4 linked regions of the Homo sapiens genome follow. The protein of the gene in region 4 purifies or fractionates together with the protein of the main gene of each other region. This does not show direct contact. Each region holds a gene or a part of one and is shown on either strand. Other genes may lie near its edges.

Region 1 (4,852 bases), on a different chromosome or scaffold from region 4:
AGACATATGATCCATAAAAGATTAAAAAAGAGAAGAGAGCAGAGGGACAACATGGTCTAAAATCCTGGTTTAGGAATCCGGCCTGAGTTTGAGGCTGTACTTGCTGCTATGTCTCCCAGCTTCTGAGCCCAGTTTGTCATCTGTAAATGAAGGTCATTCTTATACCTTTATTTCTGATAGGAATATAAGTGATACCAGCTTTCTTTTGGTTGACATTTTCCCATGTATCTTTTTCTATCCTTTCCATCTTTCTGTAGTTTTATGATTAGATACATCTTTTGCAAATAGTGTATTATATTTTGTTTATCCATTCTGACAATCTTTAACTGGCACATTTAATCCATTTACATTTACTGTAATTACTGATATATTTGCACTCATTTCTACAGTATTGTGCTCTCTGTGCCGTCTTCTTTTTTTTTTTTTTTTTTTTTTTTTTGAGGCGGAGTCTCACTCTGTCGCCCAGGCGGGAGTGTAGTGGTGCAATCTTGGCTTACTGCAACCTCTGCCTCCCGGGTTCAGGCGATTCTCCTGTCTCAGCCTCCTATGTAGCTGGGATTGCAGGTGCCTGCCACCGTGCCCTGCTAATTTTTGTATTTTTAGTAGAGATGGGGTTTCACCATGTTGGCCAGGCTAGTCTCGAACTCCTGACCTCAGGTGATCCGCCCCCCATCAGCCTCCCAAAGTGCTGGGATTATAGGTGTGAGCCACTGCACCTGGCCCTGTGCCATCTTCTTTATGTTCCTTTATTCTGTCCTTTTTCATGCCTTCTTTAGATTGTTTTCCCCCCATTCCATTTTCCTCTTACTAATATGGAAATTATGCACAATATCTAGCTTTTTACATAGTTTTCCAAGCAAATTTAACAAACATAACTTATCAAAGTCTAAATTTAATGAAAATCTTTGTTCTCCTCCTGAATAATGCAAAACCTGACTTAGAGAACATCCTGACCTATATGCTACAGTTATATATTTTAGTTATTTGTTTTAAACCTTCCATACATTATAATTTTTGTTCTATATTGTTGAAGTTTTGCATTTACACATAAATTTACCACTTTTTTTGTTGTTGTTGGTTTGAAATAGAGTCTCACTCTGCCACCCAGGCTGGAGTGCAGTGGCGCGATCTTGGCTCACCTCCACCTCCTGGGTTTAAACGATTCTCCTGCCTCAGCCTCCAGAGTAGCTGGGATTACAGTTGTGCACCACCACACCAGGCTAATTTTTGTATTTTTAGTAGAGATGGTGTTTCACCACATTGGCCAGGCTGGTCTCAAACTCATGATCTTGAGTGATCCACCTGCTTTGGCTTCCCAAAGTGCTGGAATTACAGGTTTAGCCACTGTGCCTGGCCTATTTACCACTTTTTTGACTATTTTTTCTTTTCGTGTCTCAGACCTTTTCTCTAAAGTATTTCCTTTAGAATTTCCTTTAATGCAGGTGTGTGCTTCATAAACATTCCCAGCTTTTGTTTATATGAAAATGTCTTTATTCAACTGCCTTTGGTTGGCCTTTGAGTGATATTTTTGCTGGGTGTATGGTTCTAGGTTGATGGTTACTTTCTCTTATTGTGTTAAAAACTTTTTCCATTATCTTCTGGTTTCATTATTGTTAAGAAGTAATCTGTCAATGTAATTATTATTTATTTGTAGAGAATCTTGTTTTGGTTTTCACTTTGGCTGTCTTCTCCTTTTAAAAACTTTTTGTTATGGAAAACTTCAAACATAAAAGTAGAGAAAATAGCATAATGAACCAGACGTGCCCATCACCCAGCATTAATAATTATTATTACATGGATTCTGGCTGCATTCGAGATCATTTTTCCCTTTGGTGTTCTGCAGTTTTACCATAAGGTACATACATGTAGATTTCTTTTCTTTCTTTCTTTTCTTTTTTTTTTTTTTTCTGAGATGGAGTCTCGCTCTGTCGCCCAGGCTGGAGTGCAGTGTCATGATCTCAGCTCACTGCAACCTCCGCCTCCTGGGTTCAAGCAATTCTCCTGCCTCAGCCTCCCGAGTAGCTGGGACTACAGGCGCACAACGCCATGCCCGGCTAATTTTTTGTATTTTTAATAGAGACAGGGTTTCACCGTGTTTACCAGGCTGGTCACGAACTCCTGAGCTCAGGCAGTCCACCTGCCTCAGCCTCCCAAAGTGCTGGGATTACAGGCATGAGCCACCGTGCCCAGACTTTTTTTTTTTTTTTTTGAGACGGAGTCTCACTCTGTCACCCAGGCTGAAGTGCAGTGGTGCAATCTTGGCTCACTGCAACCTCCACCTCCTGGGTTTAAGCCATTCTTCTGCCTCAGCTTCCCAAGTAGCTGGGACTGCAGGCGCTTGCCACCACGCCCAGCTAATATTTTGTATTTTTAGTAGAGACAGGGTTTCACCATTTTAGCCGGGATGGTCTCCATCTCCTGACCTCGTGATCTCCACCTCGGCTCCCAAAGTGCTGGGATTACAGATGTGAGCCACCATGCCTGGCCTGCATAGGGACCTTTTATCAGACTTCCACTTGGGGCAGGTCTGACCTTGGTCTCCTATTCCCCCTCTGCAGGGAGGAGGGGAATTTTGAAACTTAGGGTCACCAGTTATTTTCATTGAGAGGGCCACTCAGGATATCTATTTAGCTGTATTTCCAAGAACCTTTGTGTCTTTTTAAAAGTTCTAAGTAGGCCGGGTGCGGTGGCTCATGCCTGTAAATCCAGCACTTTGGGAGGCTGAGGCAGGTGGATCATGAGGTCAGGAGATCGAGACCATCCTGGCTAGCACAGTGAAACACCGTGTCTACAAAAAAAAAATCCAAAAAAATTAGCCGGGCATGGTGGTGAGCTCCTGTAGTCCCAGCTACTCGGGAGGCTGAGGCAGGAGAACGGCGTGAACCTGGGAGGCGGAGCTTGCAGTGAGCCGAAATCGCGCCACTGCACTCCAGCCTAGGTGACAGAGCGAGACTCCGTCTCAAAAAAAAAAAAAAAAAGTTCTACATATTGCATAATAAGTTGAAATAGATAAATTAGTAAAATAAAGGTAATAACCATCATTACCCCTTCCCCCCAGGTATGACAGGTGACTGGGAGACAGACAGAGTGACAAATGGAATGAGCATGGGCTTTGGAATCAAAGATACTCAGCCCTACCACCTACTAGATGGGTGACCTGGGGCAAGTCACTTTATCTCATGGAACCTCAGTATCTTCATACGAAGAGGGGACAGTAGTACTTAGTGCTTGGTACACAATAGGGACTTACAAAAAATAGCCACTGTTCCTGTGATGAACCAAGAGAAGAAAACCCCATAAACTTAACACCATAGAAATATGTGGGATTAAGGGACTCTTTTTTCGCTGGGTGGCTCTAGCTCCTTCCCAGTGAGCCACCCCAACAGAGTGAGGTTTTTGTTTGTTTGTTTTTACCCGTGAAATAGCTTCAGGAGGTCCTGAGAACATGCGCCCCACAATAGAGTGTTTATGTTTAACTCGCACAGGGGAAAGATCCTTGATCCCTTGGTCTTTCCCTTTGGACTGTGCCATTTGCTTTCTGTGCCATCTGTAGTGGTAGGAGGACTCCTGTCTGCTCATCTGCTCTCCAAGAAGGCTGGGGTGGAAGTAGAGGCTGGATGGCCCTGTTCCGGGCCTCTCCTGAGAATGGCTGAGGAGGCGGCCCGAAAACTCCTCCCAGGTAAGACCCACACAGAGATGGGGCAGAGACGAAGTCCAGTAGGTCCTGCTTCCCTTGCTGAAGATGAGAGTGGCAGTGCTGAATTAATTCCTGGTATTTCTCACCAGGTGTATTTGGTCTTTCTACCCACCAGGCACCCACCATGGAAATCAGGAGTGTCCTGGGCATTTTAAGGGCCTGCTGGGGCCCTGACCCGGATGGATGAGTTGACCTCATTATTGTTTGCAGGGGATGGTTGAAGGTGGCCAGCCTGGTGGGTGGAAGGCCATTACCCTTATTTTGAATGAGCCCATTTGTCCCCTTCCAGGTACTACAGTTATTCCACACACTGCTGGAGTAACAGGGGCCCAGGGAAGGGTGTTGGTGTGAGCATTAGCAGCCCTGGATTCTAGACTCAGCTCTGCCAGCCAACATCGTGACCAAGCCACTCTTTCTCTTCATAGTTTGTTGTTTGTTTGTTTGTGATGGAGTCTTGTTCTGTCGCCCAGGCTGGAGTGCAGTGGCACAATCTCAAGTCACTGTAACCACCGCCTCCTGGGTTCAAGCAATTCTTTTGCTTCAGCCTCTTGAGTAGCTGGGATTACAGGCGCCTGCCACCATGCCCAGCTAATTTTTGTATTTTTTAGTAGAGATGAAGTTTCGCCACGTTGATCAGGCTGGTCTCAAACTCTTGACCTCAAGTGATCTGGCTGCCTCGGCCTCCCAAAGTGCTGGGATTACAGGCATGAGCCACTGTGTCTGGCCTCTCTCCACAGTTTGGTTTCCCCATCTATCAAATGAGAATCATAATTTCTACTTCCCTACCACATCGGGTTTTGGAGAGGCTAAAATGAGGTCAGGAAGGAGAAACTGCTTAGAGAACGTCCAACACTTTTAAAACGAGAGGGATTTGTTTTGTGGCTAAGCTGTGTCCAGGGCTGCAGGTCAAGCCTCCATGTTTTTGTCTAGTGGGGCAGTAACACCAGGCTCAGTAGCATCAACTGTACACTGTGTTCCCTTCAGGGTGTGGTGGAGGCTCTGAGGACTGTTCACACCCAGACACGTCACACTGTGCTTTCCATCACCTCTTGGCCATCTCACTTATTTATCCCTTTTCTTTCTTAATTTTTTTTTTTTTTTTTTTTTCAGACAGGGTCTTGCTCTGTCGCCCAGGCTGGAGTGCAGTGGCGTGAT
Region 2 (4,852 bases), on a different chromosome or scaffold from region 4:
AGACAGTGGGGCCATTTGAAAGATGGATGATGATGCCTCTTGCTAGGAAGGGACATATAAGAGGAGCCGGTTGGGCAAGGTTTGGTGCTCGTGACTTTGCTTTGGCTATGTTAGGTATAAATTGTCTTAGAAAGAGCAGGTTGACCACTGTATAGATGGGCAGGCAGTGCAGAGAGGAGTCTGGTGTCCAGAGAGAAATTTGCAAGTCATCTACATACCAGTGGTAATTAAAGGTGGCAATGAGAAAGAAAAAGGAGAGAGTGAAAGTGGAAGAGAAAGGAGGACTTAAATAGTCAACTTAAATAGTCAACAAATACAGGGCCCCATGTATTTGTCATCTTTTATGGAGGGCACAATGTCTGACACTTAATTTTTTTTTCAAAGCAACTTTATTGTTATTATGGCAACACAGATCTCTGTAAAGAGAAGTGGGCTCTGTTCTTTAATTGAGGCATTTCAGCTGGACTAAGCTAATGTCTCTAATGTCAAATGTAAGTGAGGAATTAGGAAAGAACAGATAAGCTAATGTCTTTCAGCTAAATGATAAGACGGAGGATATTCTTGTGTTTTTCAGGGAAAGACAGAAGACTGTCAGTGTATTCTAGATCTTACATAAAGATCTGTTGAGTGTTTCATTTCACTGGGAGTGTTTTAAAATATGAAGCTTAATAAAAGTGTTATTAGTTGATTAGATATATACTAATAATTTTCTGTTTGAGTAAAATTTTTGCAGATTTGTGTGTCCCCAGACATTTATGTCTGTTTTTTGTACATATTTCAGTTATCTCCGTTTACACAAAGTATAGTCCAGGCTCATTTCCTGCAGTTTCAGTTTTGGGCAAGTCCATAGTCGTGGTTTCACTTGAAGATTTTTAATTTCTTTCTTTTTAAAAAAAAAAAAAAACAAAGTAAAACCAGAATAAGTCCCTATAAGTTCACAATTGTGTACATATAAAATAATTTCTCTGTTTTGTACTGGGCTAAATTGATTCACATTTTAATGGCAAAGGGTGTAGTCAAAATATCAAGTTAAAATTAGTCTACCTTGTTTATAATGTAATTTTCTATGAATTTAAATTCCATTATTCAGTACACTGGAATTCTATGTCAATTTTAATTGTGTAAGTAATATGGTGATACTAATGATAATATCTTATGTTTGTTTGGTACTTTAAAATACACTTAACACCTTCATATACAAGACCTCCTTTAGTCCTCCCAAGAAGCGTATGAGGTAGGAATATTATGACTTTTCTTTAGTTGATGAGGAATCTGATGTTTGTAAAGCTTCATAACCTAATACAGCTTGGAAGTAACAGAACCAGATCTGAGAACAGAACTTCATACTCCAAGGCCAGAGTTCTTCCAGAAAGGGAACTGAGTCATCAAATGATGACTGTTGCTGCCCCAAGTGAGATAATAAGACAGGCTATAAAGAGTTACTACATGTTTTTCTCCAGTCACCAATGGTAGGAGAGATTTTGCTCCTTCATGTCCTTATACAATAAAGCAGCCCTCCTGTACAGGTTAAGAATGGGAAGAGGTGGCTGGGTGTTCCAGGTGATGCAGCAGGGAACCAGGGCTGGGAGAACCAGCTATTTCAGTCAGTGCTCTGCCCACTGGACTTGGATGCTCTTTTCCTATGATGCCCTGGGGAAGCAGAGCAGGGGAAGCTGAGGCACAGCTTAACTTCTTGTTGGTTCCTTTGTGACAGGTCCAGTTTGATGAGCGAGAGGACACCAAGTCCTGCACCATTGTCATCAACGATGATGACGTGTTTGAAAATGTTGAGAGTTTCACTGTGGAGCTCAGCATGCCAGCTTATGCCCTGTTAGGGGAATTCACCCAGGCGAAGGTCATTATCAACGATACCGAGGATGAACCCACATTAGAGTTTGACAAGAAGATCTACTGGGTTAACGAGAGCGCTGGTTTTCTGTTTGCACCTATTGAAAGAAAAGGTCTGTTGGTTCCACAGGTGACAAAGAGCTATAATAATTGCTAACATTTATTGAGTTCCTATTATGTGCTAAGCACTCATCTCATGCATTATCTTAACTCACATGTGTACTTTCCACTTATTAACTCATTTGGTTCCCACAACAACCCTGATGATGATTCTATCCATAGTGACTACCATCAGAAAGCCTCTTTTCTTAGTTCAAGTTGTTAGAGCTCCCATTTACTCTTAAATTGGACTAGAAGACTGGTTATATTTAGCCTTCTAAATTATTCATGAATCAGTATTCTTAATCAATCACCCAATCCATAAAATATTTAGTAACCTTGGTCAAGGAGGGAAGTTACAGTTCATAAGGACTGGCTTTCCATCTTATTCTTGGAAGACAGAAATATGCTGAAAATTTCCCTATGTGACAGTCATATGTAGAGCTCAGATGAGAAATAAACTATGTGTAAGAAATAAAGGGCAATTCTTTTTTTGTTTTATTTTTGACTGATACATAGTAATTGTGCATGTTGATAAAAGGGCAATTCTTGAGGAGTTGGAAATAAAAATAAACATCATATGGAATTTTGATTGTGCAAGATTGAGACTTTAAAACACATGGAAATTGAACCCCCATTCAAAGGCACAACAAGACTGTAAATGATGATTTTGGGTTTCTTTCTTGAATCTGCTGACTGGGTATTAGTGTAACAAATACTGTAGATAGCAAAAACCCTTGGTAATGCCACTTGGAAAACAAGCAAGCCTCATTGATTGCTCTGGGCCACCAAGCCAGGCCCAGAACAGGCTGTCACCAAGGGAAGTGGCAGCCCTAATAAGTAAAGTCATTTGTATACAGTGGCAGATTTTATTTTGTTTTGTCTTTCTCTTTTTAAATAAGCCTGTTTCTTTCTGGGAATTAAAGTATAGAAGTTTATTCAGAAAGGCAGTGAACTGTGCTTATAGCACTACCTTCAGGACACAATTACTTTCCTACTTAAAGTACCAAATATGTGTCATATCTTTCCACCTGCTGTGGTCTTAGATGGTGGGCAATGAGTCTTGCAAATTAACAGAGCACAAAATTCACAGAATAGGAAATCCATTTTGAGTTGTTTGATGAAGTATCTGGGGTATATTAAATCCTCAAGTGGTTTATACCACAGGCTCAAAGAAACTGCAATTCAGGAAGGTTTTATGTCAGAGTTTGAACAGAAATAGTGATGGACTGTTTGGGAGGGACCAAGCTCATTAACTTACCAGAGGTTTTAAAATCTGAGAAGCACTCATTCAAATGCTTTGGTTTTTTGCCATTTGTATTTCAGGAGATGCAAGCAGCATTGTATCTGCAATTTGCTACACAGTCCCTAAGTCAGCTATGGGAAGTAGCCTCTATGCTCTAGAATCAGGCTCTGATTTTAAATCTAGAGGGATGTCTGCCGCGAGTCGTGTGATATTCGGGCCTGGTGTGACCATGTCCACCTGTGATGTCATGCTTATTGATGACAGCGAGTATGAAGAGGAAGAAGAGTTTGAGATTGCCTTGGCAGATGCCTCTGACAATGCCCGCATTGGAAGGGTGGCGACAGCCAAGGTGCTCATTAGTGGTCCCAACGATGCCTCGACTGTGTCCCTGGGCAACACGGCTTTCACTGTCAGTGAGGACGCAGGTAATGGAGAGTGTCTCTGAGTTTCCTTCACCTGTCTCCTGATTCCTTTCTTGAGCAGTTTTCTCCTTAGGTTTCAGAATATCCGGGAGACATTGAGAATGCCATTCCTCAGGGATACCACTGTTGGTCTAAGGCACTATATAATGCTTGGCCAAGACCAAGCATGGAATTTATTATAGAGAGTTCCATCCACTTTTCTTACTCTGATTTGTTTTAGTAAATTTTTGTGGGTACATAGTAAGTGTATATATTTATGGATTATATGATATATTTTGATACAGGCATGTAATATATAATAATCACATCAGGATAAATGGGGTGTTCATCACCTCACCTCAAGCATTTATCCTTTGTGTTATGTACAATCCAATTATACTCTTTTAGTTATTTTAAAATGTGCAATTAAATTATTTTGACTATAGTCACCCTGTTGTGCTAGGGAATACTAGGTCTTCTTTCTAAGTATTTTGTGTACCCATTAACCATGCCCACTTCCCCCCTCCACCACCATTTCCCACCCCCACTACTCTTCCCATCCTCTGGTAACCATCCTTCTACAACATGGATGGAAGTGGAGGTCCTTATGCTAAGTGAAATAAGCCAGGCACAGAAAGACAAACTTCACATGTTCTCACTTATTTGTGGGAGCTAAAGGTTAAAATCATTGAGGTCATGGAGATAGAGTGTAGAAGGTTTTACTCTGGTTCTTGATGGCAGGCAGGGCTGTGGCATAGAGCCTAGAGCTTCATGGGCTGACCTCTGTGGTCCAGAGGGAGGGCCTGGCACTGAGCATCTGGGCTTGTGAAAGGGGAGAATGTGATATATTGAGGATGGAAGTGAAGTATTTAGTGTACTGCTAGCTCCTGAACACTCTCCAAAGTTTCAGTGTCTTCATACAGTGAAACTTTCTCATTCATGTAAGAGCCCAAAGCGATCAGTGGGCAGGTCACTTTCACATGGTATTTCAGAGACTCAGGCTCCTTTCCCACTTGTGGCTCCACAAAGGTCTTGAAGTCTTATGTATGCTGCAGGCAGATATACTGCTGGCAGAGGGGCAACAGCTGTGCTGAGTGTCTCCTGATCTGGGCCAGATCAAGGCCTTTCACATCTATGAAGGGATTTGGAGGAGCACTGGGAACAGGTATTTTTGAGCACTTACCGAATGCCGGGCACCATACCGTGCATGTTCCATGCATTCTCACTTAATATTCTATGGAAGAGAGAACATTATATA
Region 3 (4,852 bases), on a different chromosome or scaffold from region 4:
GCTGTGTGATCTATAGCAAGTTACTTAACTTTTTTTTTTTTTGAGACGGGATCTTGCTCTGTCACCCATGCTGGAGTGCAATGGTGCAATCTCGGCTCACTGCCGACCTCCACTTCCCAGGTTCAAGTGATTCTCCTGCCTCAGCCTCCTGAGTAGCTGGGACTACAGGTGCGTGCCACCAGGCCTGGCTAATTTTTGTATTTTTAGTAGAGACAGGATTTCACCATGTTGGTCAGGGTGGTCTTGAACTCGTGACCTCAGGTGATCCACCCACCTTGGCCTCCCAGAGTGCTGGGATTTTAGGTGTGAGCCACCGCACCTGGCCATTACTTAACTTTTAGGACTTCCTTCTTCATATGTAAATGGGACTACTTCACAGTTTATTGTCATAATTAATTCAGGCTTCATAAGCAAGTCAAGATTTTTTACTCACAGTGAGACTGAGTATGAGGGAAGGACCTGAACTGGCACTAGATAAAGGCAGTAGACTAAAACAGGTACTGGGAATATGGAGGGGCAGGGTCTCCCTTGCAAAGCATCAAATAAGAGGGAAATATATGCTTGAGAAGGGGAATTTCCAGTCACAAATACACAGAGGTCCTTAGCACTGTCTACTCTGGATTTCTAATAAAGAGAAGGGAAATCGAGGGTGAACTGTGCTAGGAATTGAGGCAGGCAGAATGCAGGCTCAAGGAATCAGGCACAGGTGCCCTATAGTTGGAATAGGATCATCCTACCAAATGAACATCTGTGAGATGGGAAGGAAACTGGTGGTTAGCTCAGTCCTTATGCCCAGTCTGTGCCCAGGGCATGACATCTTTTATCAGTTTAGGATAGATAAGGGTAACTGGATGGTGAAAACTATCCAAAGAGTTGATCAGGGAGCTAGGGTGGCCTGGAGGTGGAAAGATGGGTCCAGTGGTGAGAATTCACTAATACATGAATGAGGTGACTCTGATAGTTGTGAGGATTCAGTGGAAAATCATTATGGTGCAGTAAAAGAACCCTGGTTTGACAGAAGATTCATTCATTCAGCCATTCAGCAGACACGTATTCAGTGCCCATGTTGTTCCGTGCACTGGGTTAGGGGACAGGGGATGAATTGGTGAACAAGATAGGTATAGTCTCTTCTTTGGTTTGGTTTACATCTAACGGGGGAGAAAGACAATTAGCAAGTCTTTATACAAACTATTAAATGTAAAATCAGTCTAGTAATGCATGAATAATTCTCATTGTAAAAAGCTCAAATAAGGTCAGGCACAGTGGCTCACACCTTTAATCCCAGGCACTTTAGGAGGCCAAAACCGGAGGATCACTTGAGGCCAGTTCAAGATCAGCCTGGGCAAAATAGTGAGACCTCATCTCCTCTACCAAAAAAAAAAAAAAAAGAGTTCAAAGCATATGGAAGTATGTAGAATTAAGGTGAAAAACCACCTTCATTTATTCCCCTCTTCCCCCTGCTCTTCTCCCTTCATATGACCATTATCAACAGCTTGTGTGCCCCTTTCCAATAATTTTCCTATGCATTTACATATGTATGTATCATGCACAAGGAACTGAAACTCCAACACAGTATCTTGGAGATCTTTCCATTTAGTACATATGGATTTACCCCTTAATTGTATTGGCTGTGTTGTATTTCGTAGTATAGATGTGCCTTAGTGTATTTATGTATTTCCTTAACAACATCTGGATTGTTTCCTTTTTGTTGTGGCTGTTTAATTATAATTGTGATAAATGTTATAAAGGAGAAGTACCAGGACTTACAATGGATTTTAGTGGGAGTCTTGGGGGGACCTTATTCAGTCTGAGGGTTCAGGGAAGACTTTCCTGAAGAAGTGAGTTGCATGCTGAGCCCCGAAGGATGATTAGAAATTAAATGGATTAGAGGTACTGATAGAATGTGGAGGCTGAGGCCGGGCGCGGTGGCTCACACCTGTAATCCCAGCACTTTGGGAGGCCGAGGCTGGTGGATCACCTGAGGTCAGGAGTTCGAGAACATCCTGGCCAACTTGGTGAAAGCCCTGTCTCTACTAAAAATACAAAAATTAGCCAGGTGTGGTGGCGGGCGCCTGTAATCCTAGCTACTGGAGAGGCTGAGGCAGGAGAATCGCCTGAACCTGGGACAGAGTTTGCAGTGAGCCAAGATCATGCCATTGCACTCCAGCCTGGGCGTCACGAGTAAAACTCTGTCTGAAAAAATGAAAAAAAAAAAGGGCCGGACGTGGTGGCTCATGCTTGTAATCCCAGCAATTTGGGAGGCTGAGGTGGGTAGATCACCTGAGGTCAGGAGTTCAAGACCAGCCTGACCAACATGGAGAAACCCCATCTCTACTAAAAATACAAAATTAGCCGGGCATGTTGGCGTGTGCCTGTAGTCCCAGCTGCTCAGGAGGCTGAGGCAGGAGAATTGCTTGAACCTGGGAGGCAGAGGTTGTGGTGAGCTGAGATCATACCATTGCACCCCAGCCTGGGCAAACAAGAGTGAAACTCCATCTCAAAAAAAAAAAAAAAAAAAAGGAATATGGAGGCTGAGAAACATTCCAGGCAGAAGGAGGAGAATGTACAAAGGTCCGGGCTCAGTTTGAGAAACAGCGAAGGTTACCATTGGTAGGTTGTAGAAAGCAAGAGTAATAAAGATCTGAGCTGAGACTGGTGAGGTAGGTAGATGCCAAACCCTTAGAGGCCACAGTAAGGATTTTAGTGTTTATTCTAAGAGCAATGGGAAACGGTTAAAATTAAAGCCTTTTCAAAATGGGGGCAAGAGGGGTTGCAGCAGTTGATTTCATCAGCAGAGGTGAGAAATGAGGGTAGTTTGGACTAGGTGGTGGAATTGGAGGGTAGTAGAAACTTCTGAGAGAGATTTGGTTTGGGAAAGCTTGTTGACTGGAGATGCATGCTTTAGGTGGGCATTCATCAGAACCCTTTTGCCTGATTGGGCATGTCGGGAACACTGCAAGAACCAGGTTTGGCTTTAAAAGTAGAAATCAATTTGGGACCTCTGAGTCTGCATTACTATGGGTCATCTAGGGAGATGTCGAGTAGGCAGTTGGGAATAATACAGCTGTGTCTGCAGCTGTCAGTCCACAAAGACCAGAAAAATTCTGTTTCTTCAAAGCTTTACACCAAAACTCATTTGGCAGCAAAACATTTCCTGTACTAGGGAGATTAGATTAATAGGCAGTGTATGTATACATTTCATATTACCTTTCTACAATCAGAGAAAAAAATTGAAGTATGTCTGGCCCCAGCGTTTTCCATAAAGGATTGGGGGCCTGAAATAGCATGTGCAAAAGTATCATTTAGCACTTACCATGCATCAGGCACTTTTTTTTTTTTTTTTTTTTTGCACCGGTGTCTCACTCTGTCGCCCAGGCTGGAGTGCAGTGGCACGATATCGGCTCACTACAACCTCTGTCTCCCTGGTTCAAGTCATTCTCCTGCCTCAGCCTCCCAAGTAGCTGGGATTACAGGTGCACGCCACCATGCCCGGCCAATTTTTTCTATTTTAGTAGAGACGGGGTTTCACTGTGTTGCCCAGGCTGGTCTATAACTCCTGAGCTCAGGCAGTCCACCTGCCTTGGCCTCCCAAAATGCTAGGCTTATAGGTGTGAGCCACCACGCCCAGCTGCATCAGGCACTCTTTTAAGACCTTTAACATATATGAACTCATTTAATCCTCATAACTACCCTGTGAGGTTGTAAGTATTATGATTATTCCCATTTTAGAGATGAAGAAATGAGTCACAAAAGGGAACTTGCCCAAGGTTACACAGCTAATGAGTGGAGCCAGGATTTGAAACTGGGCAGTCTGTCTACAAAATCCATGCCCATAACCACCACATTGTGTTGACTCCCAGTGTGTCTGCAGTTCAGAGGAGCAGTTTGGACTGTGGACAAAATGTGAGCACCATAGAATTATGGAGAGGGAGTCTGGTGAGCCACGAGAACTCCAACATTTAATGTTTGTGTAGAAGATGATGAACTGGTCCAGAAAACTGAGACAGAGCAGCCAGAAAGGTTAGGAAAACCAGAAGTGGCATAGGCTTATGGAAGCCAGTGAAAAAGAAGACTTTAAGAAGGGGATGGGCGCCTGTAATCCCAGCACTTTGGGAGGCCGAGGTGGGCAGATCACTTGAAGTCAGGAGTTCAAGACCAGTCTGGCCAACATGATGAAATCCCGTCTCCACTAAAAATACAAAAATTAGCCTGGTGTGGTGGCGCACCCCTGTAGTCCCAGCTACTTGGGAGGCTGAGGCAGGAGAATCGCTTGAACCTGGAAGGCAGTGGCAGAAGGAAGATCATGCCACTGCACTCCAGCCTGGGCAACACAGCAAGCCTGTCTCAAAAAAATGAAGGGGATGGGGTGGGTGTGGTGGCTCATGCCTGTAATCCTAATACTTTGGGAGGCCAAGGTGGGAAGATTGTTTGATGCCAGGAGTTCAAGACCAGCCTGGTCAACATAGGGAGACCCCATCTCTAAAAAAGAAGGGGGTGGTCAACGATGTTAAGTGCTGCTGAGAGGATGAGTCTTGGCTCTGCTGATTCCTGACTTGAGTTTCCAGTCAGAAATACACAGAGGTCCTTAGCACTGTCTACTCTAGAGCCTTCTTAGATCTGTGAGATGGAAGTATAAATTACTGTGAGCAGTACTTCTGATGTCACCATGGGCAAAAGAGTCCATATGTGAAGGTCACATGCTTATTTACATCCTTTTCTGTTTTGGGCTATTCTGCAAAATCAAGTCCTGTCTTACCCTCTCTTCATGCCACCCCCAACCAGGCTCTGGCGTTACGACGTATTCTGTACACCCTGGCACAGTCCAATCTGAACTGGTTCGGCACTCATCTTT
Region 4 (5,583 bases):
CAACCCTTCCAGCTGGGCCTCTTGATGGCAAACAGGGCAGCGCCTCTGCAGTAAAATGCAAAACCCTTTTATAAGACCTTTGAGTCAATGCGGCAACCTGGGACCGCTTTGTGTGGAGAGCAAGTGACAGTTTGGCGAAAATAGGTCATCAGAAGCTTTATTGCCTGGCCATCAGCCCTTCTCCTCAGAGCCGACTGCAGAGCTTAAGCAAACAGCTTAAGCACGTCGCACTGCTATTTCTTGCTTCTCAGTTCTGTCTTGCTGGCAAGACGTTTTTTTTTCCTAGTTTCCACTTATAAAGTGCAGATTTTCAAAATCTTACTCTACATATGAAATGTCATGATGTATTGGAGTTTTTAAAACTTCAAGAAAAAAGTTAGGGAGGAAACAAATGAAATAAAATTGGCAAAGGCTGATACTTAATTGTTGAACCTGGGTTTATTGGCTCATTCTACCAGCCTTTGTGTATGTTTGGAAATGTCCACTAAGGTAAAATTTAATAAATAAACTGTGGGGGAAAGTTAGATTTTAGAGGCTGCTTTTAAAGCTTTACTATTGTCAGAGAGGTTTGGTTTCAATATCACTCTGTAAAATGAACAGTTTTAAAACTTATTTATACAAAAAATACAATCATCTAGCTTATATACATCTTCATTTTAGTATACAAACAATTTAGCTCATGCAAAAGATTCTATTAACTTAAAGTCATAAAATGTACTTACTTTTACATATAATTAAATGATGCAATTAACCAGTAGTAACCACTGAGTTTAAAAGTGTATTTTTCGGCCGGGCGCAGTGGCTCATGCCAGTAATCCCAGCACTTTGGGAGGCCGAGGCGGGTGGATCACGAGGTCAGGAGATCAAGACCATCCTGGCTAACACGGTGAAACCCCGTCTCTACTAAAAATACAAAAAAATTAGCCAGGCATGGTGGTGGGCGCCTGTAGTCCCAGCTACTCGGGAGGCTGAGGCAGGAGAATGGTGTGAATCCGGGAGGCGGAGGTTGCAGTGAGCCGAGATTGCACCACTGCACTCCAGCCTGGGCCACAGAGCTAGACTCCGTCTCAAAAAAATAAAGTGTGTTTTTCACCGGACACGGTGGGTTTGTGCCTGTAATCCCAGCACTTTGGGAGGCAGAGGCAGGAGGATCGCTTAAGGCCAGAAGTTAGAGGACAGCCTGGGAAACATAGCAAGATCCCTATCTCTACAAAATAAAAAAAAAATTAGCTGGGCATAGGGGCGCGAGCCTGTAGTCCTAGCCACTCAGAGGCTGGGGTAGGAGGATCACTTAAGCCCAGAAGTTCGAGGATGTGGTGAGCTATGATCGCCCACTGCACTCCAGCCTGGCTGACAGAGTGACACTTTGCCTCTAAAAAACAAAATTAACAAGGTGTTTGTCTCATGACTTACAGCACTTACAGATGCTTGATGAAGTCCTGGGGCACCTTCCTCCATGTGCTCTGCCCACTCGGGTCTGCTGGCCTTGACCTGGTCCTTGCAGCCCACAGGACCCATTGCTGGGAGGCCCCCCAGGGTAGCCCGGTCCTCCAATTTCCTATTGCTTTATTTAACAGCCTCTTTAATAAACCTCACACGTAAAGATGTAAGAAATTAAATCACCATTAAAGACTATTTCAGCCTTGGAGGAAGAATACTATTTTTAGAAATGAGTTTTTATATTAAAATCACAGAACAATTTGCAACACTGGGTTGCAAAGTGTCTTCTTTAGTGCTGATAAAAGGGGCTCAGTCCCTATTCTGGTAGTTAGAAAAGCAGATTTAGAAGGTGCTAGAAAATACCCCAAATCACTCCTTCCTTGGGTTCCGTTTGGATTCAGCAGGCTCCTCTGGCGATGGGCGGGCGCCGCAGTTGCGCCTGTGCTCCTAAGGGCTCGCCTTAAATACCTGTGGGTATCTCCTCATCATATCGGTGCCATTCATGTTTCTCAGAGATCTAACTGCCAAAGGACTTAAACTCTCTAAGCCTCCCTTTCTCTCTTTTCACGTGGGGGATAATAATAGTGCCTACCCTAGAGGGTCCTATAGTAAATGGGGGCAGTGCCCCTCCCCCACTTGCTGGGCACAGAGAAGAGGCTCCATCTGCAGAGTAAGGGGGCCTCTCTTAAAGCAGGGGTGACGTGCTTTCCCTTATCCTCGTGTTCCCCACTCAGGGCGGCTGGGACCCCAGGCTGTTGCCTGTGCCCCACACAGGAGCTCCCTCTCCCACAGGGCCCCTCACCATCTCCCAGTACAAGTAGTATGCAGTAGAAAATCTCCACCTTCCTGTGAAAGCTTTTTGTTCATGTTGGGATTTTTTTTTTTTTCCAGTGAGAAAATGGCTCGTCACCTTGGATACCAATGTTTTACATCAGGGATTGGTCACTCCTGCTGCTGTCAGCACTGTAAACACTGCTGGGGGGAGTCAGCCCAAGTCCCCACCCCCCAGCCAGGTCTCATAGAGGGAATTGTTCTTCAGGCTCGGAGGGGCCTGCCTGTCACTGCGCCCCCGACCCTAGCTCAGGGACTGCAGAACTCAAGATACCATCCCGTTTCTCCTGGCTGAGGAAGGGAAGGGAACATCCACATCTTCTGTACTCGTCCATTCTGTGTCCCCGGGGCCTGGAGTAAAGACACCTTCAAATGCAGAGACTCTTCAGATTCAGCTTTCCTGGAAACTGATCTTCAATGCACTAAGAGAAGGAGACTCTCAAACCAAAAATGACCTGGAGGCACCATGTCAGGTAAGGACAGAGGTCATGAGATCTTAGAGCCAAGAAGGGGTCTTAAGAGCCTCAGAATAAATCGTAGTGCATGAGCCACTGTTCATTAAAGGAGGTGTACACTTTCTGTCTCAAAATCTTTCTAAGCCATAGCAAAATTAACAAAAACCTACAAGTTACAAAATGATTGCCTTATTCATTATAATTATTTTACATAATTTTATATTTATATATAATGATGGCATTGTATTTTTATGTGTATGTGAATTTCTGCTTATACTTCTAAAGATACTTTCAACTTCAATGATTTTCTTTAAATATTCTAGGCTTCTGTTTACGGTCAGTTTGGCATTACAGATCATCAATTTGGGAAACAGTAAGAAACATTTTATTCATAATTTCAGTTTTAATTGCATAAAATATTTGTTTCTCAATCATTATCAGTCTCACATTTTCAATATTTTTTAAAGGCTATCAAAGAGAGAAACATAACGGCGGTAGAGAGGAAGTCACCAAGGTTGCCACTCAGAAGCACCGACAGTCACCGCTCAACTGGACCTCCAGTCATTTCGGAGAGGTGACTGGGAGCGCCGAGGGCTGGGGGCCGGAGGAGCCGCTCCCCTACTCCCGGGCTTTCGGAGAGGGTAAGTTGCAGCGCTGCCCACAAAATCCGGGGCGTCATCTCAGTCTGCGGACTCAGAGTTTAGGACCTGAGAATATGTAGGATAAATTCAGGATAAAATCCAAGGAGAGCATTTTGTTATCTTCAAATGATGATGCACTTACAAAGCTATAAAGCTAGAGACAGTTCCTAGTGAGGTGTTAAAAAGCTTTACTCTTTCATTGGTAAAACGTTGTATTTGCTCTTCAATGGTTATTTTGCTGCAGATCTAGAGAACTGTGATTTAAATGTGTTGAAAATAAATATCCCAAGCCAAGATAACAGCGGACTCTTGCTTGGCTTCTCCCAGACACCGCGTCCCCAGGAGGCCCCTCGCCGGTGGGTTTGGCGTCATCACACCCGTGGGTGGTCCCGCCCAGGAGGCCTGTGCTTAATCACTGTCAGGTGAAGCCACAGCCAGAGGTTAACATGTGAAAGGAAGGGAGAGAGCAAGCCCGGCTTGCAGGCCGCACCCCTGATAGTTTGTTTCACATCCCTAACAAGCAGGGTTTACCTGAGCAAACACACTTGGCTGGAGGCTGATTTTACTGCCTCCCCTGGGCGGCCACGTTCGGCCCCGTCCCTGCGGGGAGGGCCACGGGCCGCGGGGGGCGCGGGGCTGACGCCCGGGTGACCCCGCAGGTGCGTCCGCGCGGCCGCGCTGCTGCAGGAACGGCGGTACCTGCGTGCTGGGCAGCTTCTGCGTGTGCCCGGCCCACTTCACCGGCCGCTACTGCGAGCATGACCAGAGGCGCAGGTGGGCACAGGGGTGCGCGGGGTGGGGACGGGGGTGGGCGCCGGGTGAGGGACCTGCGGGTCTGGGGGCGCGGGAGTAGGCGTCAGGAGAGGGGCGCGCGGGTGCGGGGGCGCGGGAGTGGGCGCCGGGCGATGGGCGCGCGGGTTGGGGGGCGCGGGAGTTGGCGCCGGGGGAGGGATGCGCGGGTGGGGGAGCGGCGCAGGAGTGGGCGCCGGGCGAGGGGCGCGCGGGCCACCGCATTGATGCAGGTCCCCGTCTTCTCAGTGAATGCGGCGCCCTGGAGCACGGAGCCTGGACCCTCCGCGCCTGCCACCTCTGCAGGTGCATCTTCGGGGCCCTGCACTGCCTCCCCCTCCAGACGCCTGACCGCTGTGGTAAGAGGCCCTGTGATTCGGTCCCCAGCTCACCCCCGCACGCGGTTGCGCCTTCATTGCGGCTCACCCTCCATACCGATCCACAGTGCATCTTCCAGTGCCAGGCCACATAGCATTTAGCAAAGTAGATCGATTCATCATTGAAGAAAGTCGCATTCATTGGGAATCATATAGTGAATTAAATTTTGTTTTGAAGTTCTCATATCCAGATTGCTGAGTTTAAAAATGATTTCCAAACCATGTCCTCACATGTCCGTTTCAGTGAGCAGAATTTCAGGAGATGACCAGCTGGTAATCGGAGAGGAAGCTGGGAGACAAGTTAGCTGCGTAAATCTCAGGTGGTTTCCCTGCACTAGGCCAGCACCATCTGCTCAGCTGTGGGACCAGCAGGGACACAGGCAGGAGCCGCATTTCCCTCTGGAATCCTGTGCCTTCTCTCCTCTCCTCTTTGGTGATCACTGGCTGGGGCTAGCAATGGAGGGCACAGCTAGTGAAGGCCCAGCCTCTTGGCCCCAGCCCGAGCTCTGCCCTCTCCCAGGCCCGGGTGGGCTGGTGGTGCAGTGTCCAGAGGCACACCTGATGAAGCCAAGGCCCCTGATCCACTCTCCTGCCCCCTCCCTCCACTTCAGTCAGCCCTGGGCACCTCCATCTGTCAAAGAGCACAGCCCCGCAACCCCACTTCCCACCTGTCGCTCTCAGGCCGTCCTGCTAGGGCTGCATGGAGGGCAGCACCAGTGGCCCAAAGATCTTCAACCCGGCTCCCCCAGCCTCCCTCTTGCTCTTGGAGGCCCACAATGGAGGAGTACACAATGCATGCTTAGCTCTCCTTCACCTTCCTGTCCTCTCTTCTCTCCCTGGTAGGACCAGCAGTCAAGGGACACTCTTAATAGAGGCACAGCCCCCAACCCCACTTCCCACCCTGCTCCCTTCTCCTCAGCTAGCTCTGCATGGTGCCAGCAGGGAAGAGCACTCCCCGCCTGCCGTGCAGACCACATTTTCCCAAAGCACCCCCTCTTCTATGTGTGCTCCTTTTGCTGGGCCTCTGCCTCTGAAGTCACCAGCTGCTCC

Evidence for each region. Proteins that work in one complex are often made in the same cells at the same time.
Region 1: the proteins of CFC1 (region 4) and EDEM2 purify together in Homo sapiens (affinity purification with mass spectrometry; one large-scale study listed by BioGRID and IntAct). This does not show direct contact.
Region 2: the proteins of CFC1 (region 4) and FRAS1 purify together in Homo sapiens (affinity purification with mass spectrometry; one large-scale study listed by BioGRID and IntAct). This does not show direct contact.
Region 3: the proteins of CFC1 (region 4) and RDH11 purify together in Homo sapiens (affinity purification with mass spectrometry; one large-scale study listed by BioGRID and IntAct). This does not show direct contact.

Annotation. Positions count from the first base shown.
Region 1 is NC_000020.11:35,136,707-35,141,558, reverse strand, and holds part of EDEM2 (ER degradation-enhancing alpha-mannosidase-like protein 2 isoform 1 precursor), read left to right. Parts: intron 1-3,553; coding exon 3,554-3,679; intron 3,680-4,852. Other genes in the region: MMP24-AS1-EDEM2 (ER degradation-enhancing alpha-mannosidase-like protein 2), read left to right, coding at 3,554-3,679. UniProt on the Homo sapiens protein: Involved in the endoplasmic reticulum-associated degradation (ERAD) pathway that targets misfolded glycoproteins for degradation in an N-glycan-dependent manner.
Region 2 is NC_000004.12:78,476,101-78,480,952, forward strand, and holds part of FRAS1 (extracellular matrix organizing protein FRAS1 isoform 1 precursor), read left to right. Parts: intron 1-1,714; coding exon 1,715-1,961; intron 1,962-3,273; coding exon 3,274-3,618; intron 3,619-4,852. UniProt on the Homo sapiens protein: Involved in extracellular matrix organization. Required for the regulation of epidermal-basement membrane adhesion responsible for proper organogenesis during embryonic development. Involved in brain organization and function.
Region 3 is NC_000014.9:67,685,135-67,689,986, reverse strand, and holds part of RDH11 (retinol dehydrogenase 11), read left to right. Parts: intron 1-4,782; coding exon 4,783-4,852. UniProt on the Homo sapiens protein: Retinol dehydrogenase with a clear preference for NADP. Displays high activity towards 9-cis, 11-cis and all-trans-retinol, and to a lesser extent on 13-cis-retinol.
Region 4 is NC_000002.12:130,596,426-130,602,008, reverse strand, and holds the start of CFC1 (cryptic protein isoform 1 precursor), read left to right. Parts: upstream 1-2,433; 5' UTR 2,434-2,721; coding exon 2,722-2,744; intron 2,745-3,049; coding exon 3,050-3,099; intron 3,100-3,193; coding exon 3,194-3,367; intron 3,368-3,611; coding exon of another isoform or gene 3,612-3,793; exon of another isoform or gene 3,794-4,011; intron 4,012-4,026; coding exon 4,027-4,141; intron 4,142-4,405; coding exon 4,406-4,515; intron 4,516-5,583. UniProt on the Homo sapiens protein: NODAL coreceptor involved in the correct establishment of the left-right axis. May play a role in mesoderm and/or neural patterning during gastrulation.